Homo sapiens: one gene and its partners. The protein of the gene in region 1 interacts with the protein of each later gene in a biochemical or structural test. Each region holds a gene or a part of one and is shown on either strand. Other genes may lie near its edges.

Region 1 (3,500 bases):
CAGTTTTAGGTATTATCCACTGACTTCTATTATGGGACAGCAGAATTTAGCTCTCCTACCTCTCTATCCCCCACAATATATACTCACACATTGTATCCTTTCAGTGTAGTTTAACCTTAATTTTGGTTAGATTAGTGTGCTATTCAGAGTTGAGCCATAAAATATGACTTCTTTGCTGCACAATTTTTTGGATTTTTTTCTCCTTTGCTTAGCTTTCTAGTGACAACTCTATCCTAAACTTGTTGCTAGTTGTCCAAATCACCTCTTCTTTTTATTTATTTTTTTGACACAGAGTCTCACTCTGTTGCCCAGGATGGAGTGCAGTGGCCCAATCTTGGCTCACTGCAACCTCTGCCTCCCAAGTTCAAGCGATTCTCCTGCATCATCTCCTATAAATCACCTCTTAATACATTTACATTTACATTAGGTTTACCAATTTATCTTTCTGAACAGCTTTATTGGAGCTTTAACCTGCTCCAATCTGGTTGGCTGCCCTGGTCACAGGCATGCAGTCATTTACCACATTGTATTAATAAATTAGGTTAAGGATTAAATATGTCACCTAATTCCATCAAATATGGAGTTTATAATCTGTATCTTTTGTTTCAGAGTAACTTTCAAGAAAATAAAGCAGCAAAAAGTTTTCTTTTCTCAACGACCTTAAAATGAGAAGCCTCTACATTGGCACAACAATGATTTTACTACCTTTAGAAATGACAAAGATTGATTGACTTATAGTTTTATAATTTTGCAAGAAAACTTATTTTTATTATGGATTCAGTTAATGTAATTTTGCTTCAAGATTTTTTTGTTTGTTTGTTTTTGTTTTTGAGACAGAGTGTCTGTCGCCCAGGCTGGAGCGCAGTGGCGCACTTTCGGCTCACTGCAACCTCTACCTCCTGGGTTCAAGTGATTCTCCTGCCTCAGCCTCCCGAGGAGCTGGGACTTTTGGTGTGAGCCACCACGCCCAGCTAATTTTTGTATTTTTAGTAGAGATGGGGTTTCACTATGTTGGCCAGGATGGTCTGGAACTCCTGACCTCAAGTGATCTGCTCGCCTCGGCTTCCCGAAGTGCTGGGATTATAGGCATGAGCCACTGAACCCGGCCTGCTTCAAGACGTATTTTAATAGAATGCAACTATTTTGTTAAGCAATACCTCTAGTACAAAATAAATCAATAATACAGAACTGTAAGAAATTAGATTTTTTTTTTTTTTTGAGGTGGAGTTTCACTGTCTCCTAGGCTGGAGCGCAGTGGTATGATCTTGGTTCATTGCAACCTCCAAATCCCAGGTTCAAGCAATTTTCGTGCCTCAGCCTCCAAAGTAGCTGGGATTACAGGTGGGTGCCACCATGCCCAGCTAATTATTGTATTTTTAGTAGAGACGGGGTTTTGCCAAGTTAGCCAGGCTGGTCTCGAACTCCTGGCCTCAAGTGATCCACCTGCCTCAGCCTCCCAAAGTGCTGCGATTACAGAGCTACCAAGCCCGGCTGAAAAAAATTTTTTAAGAAGACGGGAATCTCCCTGTCACCCAAGCTGGAGCTATCACAGGTCATTACAACCTTGAACTTCTGGGCTCAATCAATCCTCTTGCCTCAGCCTTCCAAGTAGCTAGGATTATAGGCGTGTGCCACCATGCCCAGCTAATTTTTAGAATATTTCTTTAGTAGAGATAGGGTCTGTCTTGCTCAGGTTGATCTTGAACTCCTGGGTTCATGCAGTCCTCCTGCCTCAACCTCCCGAAGTGCTGGGATTACAGGTGTGAGCCACTGTGCCCAGCCTCTGCTTTGTCTTTTAATGCAAACCACAAAAGTTCCAACATGTATAAATTTTTTGAAGTAAAACATTCTTTATTAAATATGACAAAGTAGGCCAGGCGCGGTGGAGCTCTTGAAGTCAGGAGTTCTAGACCAGCCTGGCCAACATGGTAAAACCCTGTCTGTACTAAAAACACAAAAGTTAGCTGTGCGTGCTGGCAGGCATCTGTACTCCCACCTACTCGGGAGACTGAGACACAAGAATTGCTTGAAGCCTGGAAGGTGGAGGTTGCAGTGAGCCGCGATTGCACCACTGCACTCCAGCCTGGGTGACAGAGTGAGACTCTTGTCTCAAAAAAAAAAAAAAGACAAAATAAAAGGCATTCAAGAGTTTCACAAGAAACTCTCCAGATTAAAAAAGAGAGAAAAATGCTATCTTCATAGAAATAAACTTCCACAACTCTAATCTATAAAAACACTTACCAAATACTGTGAAATCTGGGTAAGAAAGAGGAGGGTGCTGGGAACTAACCAATGTTAGTACCTTAGACTTTCAATGAAGTGTAGTTGTCCCCAAGTAACTAAAGGCTATAATAAGCTTAGCTTATTATTATCTTCTAACTAAAGTGATGAAATCTAATGGCATGAATATGCCATGAATTTTTTTATTTTTTTGACAGAGTCTCACTCCTCTGTCGCCCAGGCTGGAGTGCAGTGGCATGATCTTGGGTCACTGCAACCTCCACCTCCCACCTCCCCACTTCAAGTGATTCTCATGCCTCAACCTCCTGAGAGGCTGGGATTACAGGCACACGCCACCACGAGGCAGTGTTTCGCAGTGTTGGCCAGGCTGGTCTTGAACTCCTGGGCTCAAGGGATCTGCCTACCTTGTCCTCCCAAAGTGTTAGGATTACAGGCGTGACCCACTGCACCCGGCCTCAAAAAATTTTATAGTTATTTGGCACTGCTATGACATTTTATTTATTTATTTATTTATTTTTTGAGACAGAGTCTTGCTCTGTCGCCCAGGCTGGAGTGCAGTGGCGCGATCTCGGCTCACTGCAACCTCTGCCTCCTGGATTCAAGCGATTCTCTTGCCTTAGCCTCTCGAGTAGCTGGGACTTGAGGCGTGCACCAACACACCCGGCTAATTTATGTATTTCTAGTAGAGACAGGGTTTCACCATGTTGGCCAGGCTGTTCTCGAATTCCTGACCTCAGGTGATCTGCCTGCTCGGCCTCCCAAAGTGCTAGGATTATAGGCATGAGCCACCACACCTGGCCTGCTATGACATTTTAATCTTATTTTACAAAAGTAACAACTCTGCACTGAACTGAGTATTAAACAAACAAAAGACAATTGGAGAACTGTGAACATTAAGAGAAAATTTGATGATATTAAGGAATTATTCCTAATTATTGAGGAGTGGATTAGCACTGTGGTTATGTGAAAGAAAAAAAAAACACCCATCTTTTAAAGACACATGGTAAAATATTTACAAGAGATGATGAAGTCTGGTATTTACTTCAAAATAATCCAGAGTGTAAAAAAGGTAGTAAAACGTATGAGGTATACATTAAACAAAATTGGCCATGAAATGATAGTTGTTGAAGGCAGACAATAGGTACCTGGAGAGTCATTACACTATTCTCTCTACTTCAGTGTACGTTAGAAATATTTCATTAAAAAAATGTAAAAATTAAAGGCAACACCCACACTGGAAGCAAAATAGCAGCAGAAAA
Region 2 (3,500 bases), on another chromosome or scaffold:
AAAAGAATATAAGCAAAAACTTCAAAGAACATGAAATGCAAATGGCTCTGAAACATAAAAATATGCTTAATCTAATTTATATTAAAATAAATGTAAAATAAAACTGCACTGAGATAATATTTTCCATCTAACATACCAATCAAAATCTGGAAGTTTGATAACACACAGCTGTCAAGGGTCAGGAGCAACCTTTGTGAAGGACAATTAGTATCAACCAAAACTACAAATGCAATCCCTCTTCTCAAAATTTACCCTACAGATGACTTATGTGTAGGGTTATTCACTAGAGCACTCACCATTATAGCAAAATACTAGAAACAACCTAAATCAATAGAGAAATGGTTAAATGAATTATGGCACATCCATAACACAGAATCATGCAACTGTTAAAAAAAAGAAAGAAAGAAAGAAAGAAAGAATGGGCCAGGCACGGTGTCTCACATCTGTAATCCCAGCACTTTGGTAGGCTGAGGTGGGCAGATTATCTGAGGTCAGGAGTTAGAGACCAGCCTGACCAACATGGCGAAACCTGTCTTTACTAAAAATACAAAAGTTAGCCAGGTACGGTGGCACATGCCTGTAATCCCAGCTACTTGGGAGGCTGTGGCAGGAGAATCACTTGAACCTGGGAGGCAGAGGTTGCAGTGTGCCAAGATCTCGCCATTTGCACTCCAGCCTGGGCGACAGAGTGAGACACCATCTCAAAAAAAAAAAAAAAAAGAATGAAGAAGTTTTATATACTAAAATGGAAAGGACTCCAAGAATCTAAGTATAAACAAACAACACAATCCAGAATGGTGTGAATGGTGAGAAAGGGGGAAAAAAACCAAGACTGCATATTTGTATTTGCTCATATTTTCCAAAAGAAACTCCAGAAGGATACGTAAGAAAAAACAAAAATGTTTATCTTTGTCATAAAAGGAAAGTGGTGGTCGGCCGGGCGCGGTGGCTCATGCCTGTAATCCCAGCACTTTGGCAGGCTGAGGAGGGAGGATCACTTGAGGTCAGGAGTTTGAGACCAGCCTGGCCAACAATGGTGAAACCCTGTCTCTACTAAAAATATAAAAATTAGCTAGGCTTGGTGGCATGCACCTGTAGTCCTGACTGCTCAGGAGGCTGAGGCACGAGAATTGCTTGAACCTAGGAGATGGAGGTTGCAGTGAGCAGAGATCGTGCCACTGCACTCTGGCCTGGGCGACACAGCAAGACTCCATCTCGGGTTGGAAAAAAAAAACAGTGGTGGGAGGGGGACTTATTGTTTACCTTTATATATTTTTAAATTTGTGGATGTCAATAATATTAACTCGAAAATTAAGTTAATTAAACTTACTACAAATACTTGTTACAAGCAATGCAGGATTTAAAAAAAAAGAAGCACGACGTTTTCTTCACATATACTCAAAGCAATTTCCCTGCAGAGAATACTAAATGAGCTAAATTCTGTAATTGTCAAATGAAAGTGCTGTATCTAAAATAACAGACATGTCTAACCAATGTCATTCAGACTACAAACTCAATAGCTCAAAATATAAAATTACAAGCATATGATTTTCCTCCTAATTACCCACCTTGGCTTGCTTTTTGGCTTGTTTCTTTGCTTTTTTCTGTAAGTGCTTACTTGTTCCAGAAGGAATATCACTTCTCTCTTTTATGTAACTGTCGTTATCTTTTTCTTCCTCACTATCTTGATCTTCATCCTCCACTGTCTTTTTCAGATTTTTATCATTTACACTTTTCTTACCACTCTTAAAATATAGATAACATAGGTCAAAAACAAAATTTTACAACTACCATTTGGTGAAAAAAAATCCACACTATGTAAATATTTTTCTACTTCTATTATGTATTAGCTTTTTTTTTCCACAATATTTGAAAATAGATGAGACAAAATTCGTTTATCTCATACACTAGAAAGCAATCTTCACATAATGAGAAAACAAGCAAACCAACAAAACAGCAAAAGGCAACATCACATGTAAGTGTAATAGAAATATAACGAAATTTATTAGATACATGCTGTGTCACACTGTAAATACGTCCATTTCCAAATACATTTTCTAAGTGACTTATGTAAGTCACCACGGTGTATTCTTTTTTATTCTTTTCTTTCTTTGCATGCATATGACAGTTTCAGAAAAACAGAAAATAAAATTTGGTGAGACTTTAATTGCCAAGTTAACAAGCCAAGGGTCTCATAATTCATATGAAGTTGAAGAATGATTTATCCAATACTCATAACATCTCTTCTTTTTTCCTACTACTATTTAAAAGGAACCAAATTAAAACAAAATAATACTCTTTAACATTTATGAACTTAGGTGTGCAAGGGATTCGTGATTAGTCTTAAATAACAAAAATAAGTATTAATTTTAATATAAGGAAAATACTTCACTGTATGGAAACCAATCAAACTAATTACTTGTACAGAATTCTGAATACATCATCTTTTTTTCCATCCTTGTTTTTAAAGTAGTTACCCTGTTCTTTATTCAAATCCTAAAATGCATTCTACCTCAAATTAAGAAAAATTTCTGCATGGGCTAGTAATATACAAACTTAAAAAGAGTAACAAGGCTTCCCCCCACAAAATCTTACAGGAAAAAAAATCTACTTGAATAAAATAAATTCAATAGTCTTACCTGATCATCTAAAACTGGGAGGGACAAATCAAGGAAAGATTCATGAACCAAGGAGACCTTAACCAATCAGAAAAGACAGTGTAAAAATGTAAATACTGTAAATGTTACATAGTAAGATCCTCCCTGCCCTGTGGGATGGGGAGTAGGGGATGGGTTTTAAAATAAACAAAGGCTTAAGAAAATTTGAAATGAAAAATTACACAACATTGAGGACTTTGGGTTGGGGGAAATAAATCAAACTGTTTAACGTCTTCAAGATTTAAGGAGTGCTGACATTTCCCACAAAGAACCATGCACATCTGAATAGCATCTGAATAGTTTAAAAAGATATCCTATGAAGGTAGAGATTTCTGCTTTTGAAATAAACAATTGATAAACTGTTGAATATTAGCAAATAAACCCAGTATACATGACATCTACTTACAGTTCTGCATTGATCACACATGATCATACTAGTTAGTTCACCACCAAAGATGCGGTCAACAAAACTTGGCATTGATTTTTTCTTCTCATAATCTATGGAGAAAAAAAAGTCTATCAATTACCAATTACCGTTATATAATTAATTAAACAAGAAAAGCTAAAACTACTTACCTATCTAACTCTAAAATTTTATTTTAAATTTCCTGTCCCACAGACTTCTTCCTCCATTCATAATCACCTTTTTTAAGCAATAGAAGTCAGTATTATATATTCCACCTCTGAGCATAACATAATTGAACACAATCGCCTTTTATGAATAAGACAAAAAAGTCCTTATCCAAGATCTAGTCAGTGGGAAGTAAACTGTGCAAGTCAGTGAGACTTCTATGTCTTTCTCTCTCTCTCCATTAGTATAAAATGAACAGCTCAGAGTAGGCT
Region 3 (3,500 bases), on another chromosome or scaffold:
CATGGTGAAACCCTATCTCTACTAAACATACAAAAAAATTAGCTGGGTGTGGTGATGGGCACCTGTAATCCCAGCTACTCAGGAGGCTGAGGCAGGAGAAATGCTTGAACCCGAGAGGCGGAGGTTGCAGTGAGCCAAGATAGCACCACTGCACTCTAGCCTGGGCAACAGAGCGAGACTCTGTCTCAAAAAAAAAAAAAGTTCGGAGTTAAAAAGGATGTTCCAACCACCTCTCTTTCAGACTAAAAGGGGAGATGGCCAATCTCCAAGATCAGGAAACACCCCTGTCCCCTTAGAGAGTCACTCTGACAGTCCACCATAAAAAGGCCTCTGATCCCATCGGCCACCTCAGTGGCCTTTGGTTGCACAGTTAGAATTAAGACAGGAGCAGGCTCTGAAAGCAGATGGGTGATGGGGGTCACTGCTTGTCCTGTCCTGACCACTCTCTCCCTTTCCTAGAAGGCTGCAGATCCCTGGGCCAGTTGGAATTTCCTCTCCCGGAAGCTGGCCACCCAGCCTCACCCGCCCACCCACTCCTGGGGTGCCCTGTACCCAGTGTGCCACCTGCAGCAGAGCCCGTCCCCCATCTTCAGACACCCACCTCGGAGCCCCAGACAGTAGCCCGTGCGTGCCCTCAGAGCGCCAAACCTCCCAGCGGTTCTAAGTCAGGTCTGCGCACAGGCTCCAGCTGCAGGCACACTGCAAGGAGCAAGGCTGCCCGCAGGCCTAGCCACCCCAAGCAGCCACGTGTCCAGCGCCCACGCCCTCGCCGCCGCCGTCGCCGCCGCACTAATGGCTGGGTACCTGTTGGGGCTGCGTGTGAGAAGGCTGTGTATGTCTTGGTAAGTGCTAGCTCTTAGCTGATGACGAGAGGGAGGGAGGCAGTGGGGACACATGACCTGCAGTGAGGTAGGTGCTAGAAGCACCTGGTTCTAGCTACTCTGAGAGCTGACAAGGGACTCCAGTTTACTTGTACCCCAGGAACCAGTCATGCTGGCCCACCCAGCTTGCTTCCCTAGCCCCCTACTGATCCTGTACCAGACACCCCAGGGAGGTCAGGAGACACACAGTCATAGCTGGTGGCTGCCATCTCGGTGAGTGTCTTCCCCTCCCCTCCCTGCTCACTTTGTCCCTTACACCCTGGATTGTAAAGTGGAGGACTTTCAATGGAGAACTTTTCTGGATAAGTCTATATAGGGGGCGTTGGAATGGGCAGAGAAAATTAGTGACACAGAGAACATCTCGGATGATGAAAAGAGGCCAAGTGCGGTGGCTCACATCTGTAATCCCAGTACTTTAGGTGGTGGAAGTGGTAAGATCGCATGAGGCCAGGAGTTCAAGACGAGCCTGAGCAATATAGACCTCATCTCTACAAAGTAAAAACATTAGTTAGCCAGGCATGGTGGTGTGCACCAGGAGGCTGAAGTGGGAGGATTGCTTAGGTCCAGGAGTTCAAGGCTGCAGTGAGCTGATTGCACCACTGCACTCCAGTCTGGGTGACAGAGAGACCCTGGCTTTTAAAATTAATTAATTAAAAACAAAAAGAATATTAACTAAAATTTATTGAGGCTGGGCAAGGTGGCTCATGCATATAATCCCAGAGCTTTCAGAGGCTGATGCTAGAGGATTGTTTGAGCTCAGGAGTTCAAGACCAACCTGGTCGACATAGCAAGATCCTGTCTACAGAAAAAAAATTTTTTTAATTAGCCAGGCATGGTAGCATGCATCTGTAGTCCCAGCTACTTGAGAGTCTGAGGCAGGAGGATCACTTGAGTCCAGGAGGTTGAGGCTGCAGTGAACTATGGTTGCACCACTGCATTCCAGCCTGGGTGACAGAGTGAGACCCTGTCTCTAAAAATAAATAAATACATAAATACATAAAATTTATTGAGCACTTCTTAGATGCCAGAACTGAGCTAAGCATTTTGTAAGTATTATGCCCTTTAATCCTCACCACTACCCTATGTGGTATATATCCCATCTTCCTATAATTAATCCCATTTTACAGATGTGGAAGCTGAGGCTTAGCAATACTTTAAATAATTTGTCAAAGGCTGTGCCCCTTATAACAGTGGTTTAAGGGTTCAGACCGAGACTTGTTCCATTAGGAAGCATGAGCACTTACCCAGCACTGGGGGTCTTGGAGTGAGAGTCAGCTGTCGGGTATGGTGGTCAGAGCTCAGCCCCAGAAGCTTCAGGCCACTTTTCCACCCCTATTCCCTTTTCTCATCCTTTCTCCAACCATGAGAATTCCCCAGCCCCATCCAAAAAAGGATAGTGGTTTGACAAAACCAAGGTAGTGGTTTGACTATCTTGAGGAAATCGTGGAAAGGATGTCATTCCCTCTCTCTGTCCTTACTCTGAGTGTGGCTCTGCAAGCCTATTTGTGTCATTGGTTTGTTGCCTAGGATGAGCCGGAGCCAGCCATCCGAAAGAGCTACCAGGCGGTAGAGCGGCATGGGGAGACAATCCGAGTCCGGGACACCGTCCTTCTCAAATCAGGCCCACGAAAGACCTCCACACCTTATGTGGCCAAGATCTCTGCCCTCTGGGAGAACCCCGAGTCAGGTACCTCTCCCTCTGGCTGGGGACCCAAGGGGCAGCTGCCTTCAGCAGAACTGTAGTCCCCAGATTGGCCCCTGCCTGGAGTTTGACCTGGCGTGAGTCTCCCCGTGTTCCTGGCACAGAGTCTGCCTTCCACTCGGCTGGGGTCTCTCTGCTGCCGAGGGCTGTGGGTGACCTTGTGGCTTGGGTTGGATCAGCTCATTAACCTTTCCAGCCAGCAGAGCCTGGGCACCTGTCCCCCCACCTCACCTGTCAGTGCCTTCTCCCCCTTCTCCCTCCATGCCTAACAGCATTCCAGGCCTCTGAATGCTTGGCCTGGGGCAGGGGACATGGGTTGCCGGAGCCTGCAGGATTGAGGTTGGATGAACCTCCAGGGCAGCCAGCCAGCCTCTCTGCCTGTCTAAGTAACTCAGGTTGCCAGTTCAAGCCATAACCACTGTGTTGTCCTTCCAGGAGAGCTGATGATGAGCCTCCTGTGGTATTACAGACCTGAGCACTTACAGGGAGGCCGCAGTCCCAGCATGCACGAGGTGAGCTGCCTGGCAGATGGGTCAGGGAGGGCAGGAGAGACAGAGGGAAAGGTTATGGCACTAAGACGTGGTAGGGGGAGGGCAGCCATGGGCTGTAGTCAAATCCCTGCGCTTGTCACTTTGGACTCCAGAGAACCTGGGAAAGGGCCCAGGATTTATTCTCTTTTCCCAACACTGCCCCAATTCATGTTTCAAAGGGAATAATAACCTTTGTCTTAAAAAGAGGAACAGAAAGGGAACCCTTGAGGTAGCAGGTGCCAATGGGAGCAAGTGGATGTGTTCCCCTGGAAACAGGAAAGGTGAGGTGGAGCTGCATACCTGGTCACTTTTGGTATTTTCTGTAGTAGGGGAGGGGAGGGGAGGAAAGACTCCTCCTAACACCCCATAGGCTCTCCACCAAGCTGT
Region 4 (3,500 bases), on another chromosome or scaffold:
AAATGAGTCCTAAAAAGATAAGTGACACTACACTGAATGTTAAAAAGAATAGATATAGGTGTCAAAAGTATTACTGTGGTGTGGCAAAATGATTATAAAAGATTGTGGAGAAGTCATAAAAATCTAGAAAGATTTTGCACTCAAATTGTTTTGTAAGTATCTAAGTTTCACTGTATTTTAAATAATCACAAAATGGAATTACAAACTGGAAATCTACTTATGGATGTTGGCAACTTTCCCATGAACAACAGCTTTATCTATAAAAAGAGGATGGCATACTGTCTAACAGGAGAGGGGAGATATTTTTGAATTGATATCCTGGAGCATGATGAAGGCTTTGGTCAATCAGGCAACAGGGCTGAGGAGTATGGACCCTGACAGGAGGGATTTTAATGGGAGTAAGTAGAGTTGCCAGATAAAATACAGCACATTCAGTTACATTTGAATTTCAGACAAACAAAAATAGTTTCTTAGCATAAAACATTTTTACTAAAAATATGGCCCATGCAAAATTTGTTTTGTATTTATGTGCTGAATTTGGCAGCACTAGGAATAAATAGATTTCTTTCTTTAAAAAAAAAAAAAAGCATCCTGACTTGAGACATCTGGGTGTCTGGCCCCTTTTAAGTTAGGAAATGTATCTTCCCACCACTGCTGACTTACCGGGCTTGGCAATTTCTTTCCGCTCTGTCTCCTGGAATTGGGTGTCTGGGATGACGGACTTCGTGGAGATGGATTCTCAGCCTTCCGTTTGGCTGCCATGGCCAACAACCAGTTTTTATTCTCTGGGGAACTATTCTCTTTGCCTACCATTTCAGACCCTTCTCCACAAGGTCTCAAAGGAAGAGGTAGCGTTCCACAGCTTTCTGAAGCATACGGACTGATAGGAGACGGAGGCTCTGAGATACTGGTACCAGCTCCTTCAATTTTGCTTGATTTGGTAGGACCTAGAGAGTCCTTACTAAGGTCTTCCTGGTTACCAGCAAGGCAGCACAGATCCAAATGAAGATTTTCAACTTGGCCATCAAGCTCAGTCACACAGTTACAACTCTTCACACACTTTTGTTTCACACTCTCCAGACAGCTTGAGTCTAGCCTCCTCTTTACTCTATTTCTAGACTCAGAGCAAGCCTCTGCTTGGGATGACTTCTGGCTCACAGGAATAAGGGCTTTTCTCGGAGACATGATCTTGGTCTCCGAAGCAGGTGGAGTGATGGGTGGTGATGAGGAAGGTGTTCGGGTCACCCAGTTTCTAATCGACATCTTGAAAGATGAAGGTGGCTTGGGAGAGACGGAGGAGACAGAGCCTCTTCTGTTGATGGGAGACCGGGCCTTGGCAGGAGAGGTTTTAATAGAGAACGTAGGAGTATTTGAAGGAAGAGGGAGGTCTCCAGCACAGCTTGGGGCACAAGCTGCGGATGACGGGGAAGAATTGGATGGATTGCACTTTGCCCTGGGGGCTTTGGCAGGAGTACTCTGGCTACTCGTTACTGTTACTGAAAAAGAGGAGAGGATCATGAAGATCAGAAGTGAAAGCCATACAAAGTCCCTAAATTCTCATCAAGAAAAATCATAGCTAACCTAATCATCTAAGGGTCAATTTGCCAGTAAGTAGGTATACATCACTTGATTCCAACCACACCCTTTTATCATTTTCCTTTCTCTTTTCCAAGTCACCAACCTCCCAACTATCCCATTATAAAATATATACTTGTAAAAATCGACAAAATACCGAAAAACATAAAGAGAAAAAATTTAAAGCACTTACGTAAACCATGTTTAGCATACTTTCTATATTTGTGCATGTGATACATACTATACATCTCAACTTTTTTCTTTACAAAAATGAGACTGATTTAAGGGGAAAGTGGCAGATAGGAGGCAGGACTAATTTGCCACTCAGACAGACAGAACAGCATGTGGAGACTCACATAGTGAACTTTGGCTCCAAGAACTATCACAGGAACATACCAGAAAAAACAAAAGAATTAACAGATCCTTTGAAAGAAGTGGCTTGCTGCTGCAAAATCCACAAGACAGCAGAAAAATTGAGTGCCCAAAGTGTGAGAGGGCTCCCGAAGCTGTGTGCTTGGTCGAAGAGGACAACCATTCCTGATAAGAGGAGAATCGGTCTTCAGTCAAGGGTATACGAGTAAATGTGCTCCCCTGCTAGAACCTCCAAACAAGCTCTCAAGGTCCAAAGTGTGAGAGGGTGGCTGGGTGTGGTGGCTCATGCCTGTAATCCCAGCACTATGGGAGGCCGAGGTGGGTGGATCACTTGAGGTCAGGAGTTCAACACTAGCCTGGCCAACATGGTGAAACCCTGTCTCTACTAAAAATACAAAAATTAGCCAGGCATGGTGGTGTGCACCTGTAGTCCCAGCTACTCAGGAGGCTGAGGCAGAAGAGTTGCTTGAACCTGGGAGGTGGAAGTTGCAGTGAGCCAAGATCGCATGCACTGCACTCCAGCCTGCCTGACAGCGAGACTCCGTTTCAAAACAAACAAACAAACAAACAAACAAACAAAAAACAGTGTGAGAGGGGTAAAGTCCACTTCTGCACACATCCTCACTGAGGATCCAGATCATGGGAGAAGGAGAACTGAAATGAATTTAGAGAGCCAAACAAAATATAAAAGTAGAAGCAGCAGCAGGAAGAGCCCTGTAGGCACTCCTGGTCCCCAGGGAAACCATTTCTGACTATCTCACAGGGGTCTTTGGAGAGGGCAGCCAATGGAATTGGGGAAGGACCATAGGGAGAAGGAGACTTTCAGCTGAACTTTGTAATGATTTCAACTGAGCGTGAATTTTCCTGGGCAGAATCTGCAGGGGGATGGGACAAATAGGAAGTGCAGATATGAGCACAGAAGCTGTGGCAGGCAGATGGACAAGGCCTAACAGCCCTGCTTGCTTTCTCGGCGGGGAGTTTTGTAGTCTAGGGCAAGATCTCCACCCTGTGCACTGGAGGCATGGATATAAATTTGGTTCTGTTGGCTGTTGGGGAAGCACTGCAGGAGTGAGACTGGCCTTGCTGGCTGTGGTCTGTCACTGCCGGCTTTCCCCTATTTCCCTGGTGATGTGTATGAAGCAGCAGAGGCAGCCATAATCTCCCTTAGAACGTAACTCCATTGGCCTGTTAACCACCACTCCCATCGCCCAGAGGCCACAGCAAGCCCTGCCCAAGGAGTCTGAGCTCAGACACACTATCCCTGCCCCCACCAGATGGTCTTTCTCTAACCGCCCTGGTAGCCGTAAACAAAAGACAAAAACTCGTGGGGCCCTGCTCATTGCCTGAGAAGCCCGAAAACCTATCCAGGAAACCGTAAGGCAAGCTTATATCCCCCGCTATACTACTGCAGTTGATACTCTCTTGAAAGTGCCACCTCCTGGCTGGAGGCCAACCAATTCAAGCCATTACAGCAATTCAACAGAACAACCCTGCTCCAAGAAAGCAGAAAATAACAGCTAATTCTACTGCCTGTAACATCTTGGCCAACCAGA

Evidence for each region.
Region 2: the proteins of FBXO11 (region 1) and USP16 interact in a test that uses a peptide from one of them, tested with the Homo sapiens proteins (one study listed by BioGRID).
Region 3: of the proteins of FBXO11 (region 1) and BAHD1, one has a biochemical effect on the other in vitro, tested with the Homo sapiens proteins (one study listed by BioGRID).
Region 4: of the proteins of FBXO11 (region 1) and DTL, one has a biochemical effect on the other in vitro, tested with the Homo sapiens proteins (one study listed by BioGRID).

The regions. Positions count from the first base shown.
Region 1 is NC_000002.12:47,826,499-47,829,998, forward strand, and holds part of FBXO11 (F-box only protein 11), read right to left. Parts: intron 1-3,500. UniProt on the Homo sapiens protein: Substrate recognition component of a SCF (SKP1-CUL1-F-box protein) E3 ubiquitin-protein ligase complex which mediates the ubiquitination and subsequent proteasomal degradation of target proteins, such as DTL/CDT2, BCL6, SNAI1 and PRDM1/BLIMP1.
Region 2 is NC_000021.9:29,041,668-29,045,167, reverse strand, and holds part of USP16 (ubiquitin carboxyl-terminal hydrolase 16), read right to left. Parts: intron 3,156-3,500; coding exon 3,064-3,155; intron 2,697-3,063; coding exon 2,640-2,696; intron 1,746-2,639; coding exon 1,569-1,745; intron 1-1,568. UniProt on the Homo sapiens protein: Specifically deubiquitinates 'Lys-120' of histone H2A (H2AK119Ub), a specific tag for epigenetic transcriptional repression, thereby acting as a coactivator.
Region 3 is NC_000015.10:40,461,453-40,464,952, forward strand, and holds part of BAHD1 (bromo adjacent homology domain-containing 1 protein), read left to right. Parts: intron 1-459; coding exon 460-842; intron 843-2,408; coding exon 2,409-2,568; intron 2,569-3,018; coding exon 3,019-3,095; intron 3,096-3,500.
Region 4 is NC_000001.11:212,098,248-212,101,747, reverse strand, and holds part of DTL (denticleless protein homolog), read right to left. Parts: intron 1,497-3,500; coding exon 664-1,496; intron 1-663. UniProt on the Homo sapiens protein: Substrate-specific adapter of a DCX (DDB1-CUL4-X-box) E3 ubiquitin-protein ligase complex required for cell cycle control, DNA damage response and translesion DNA synthesis.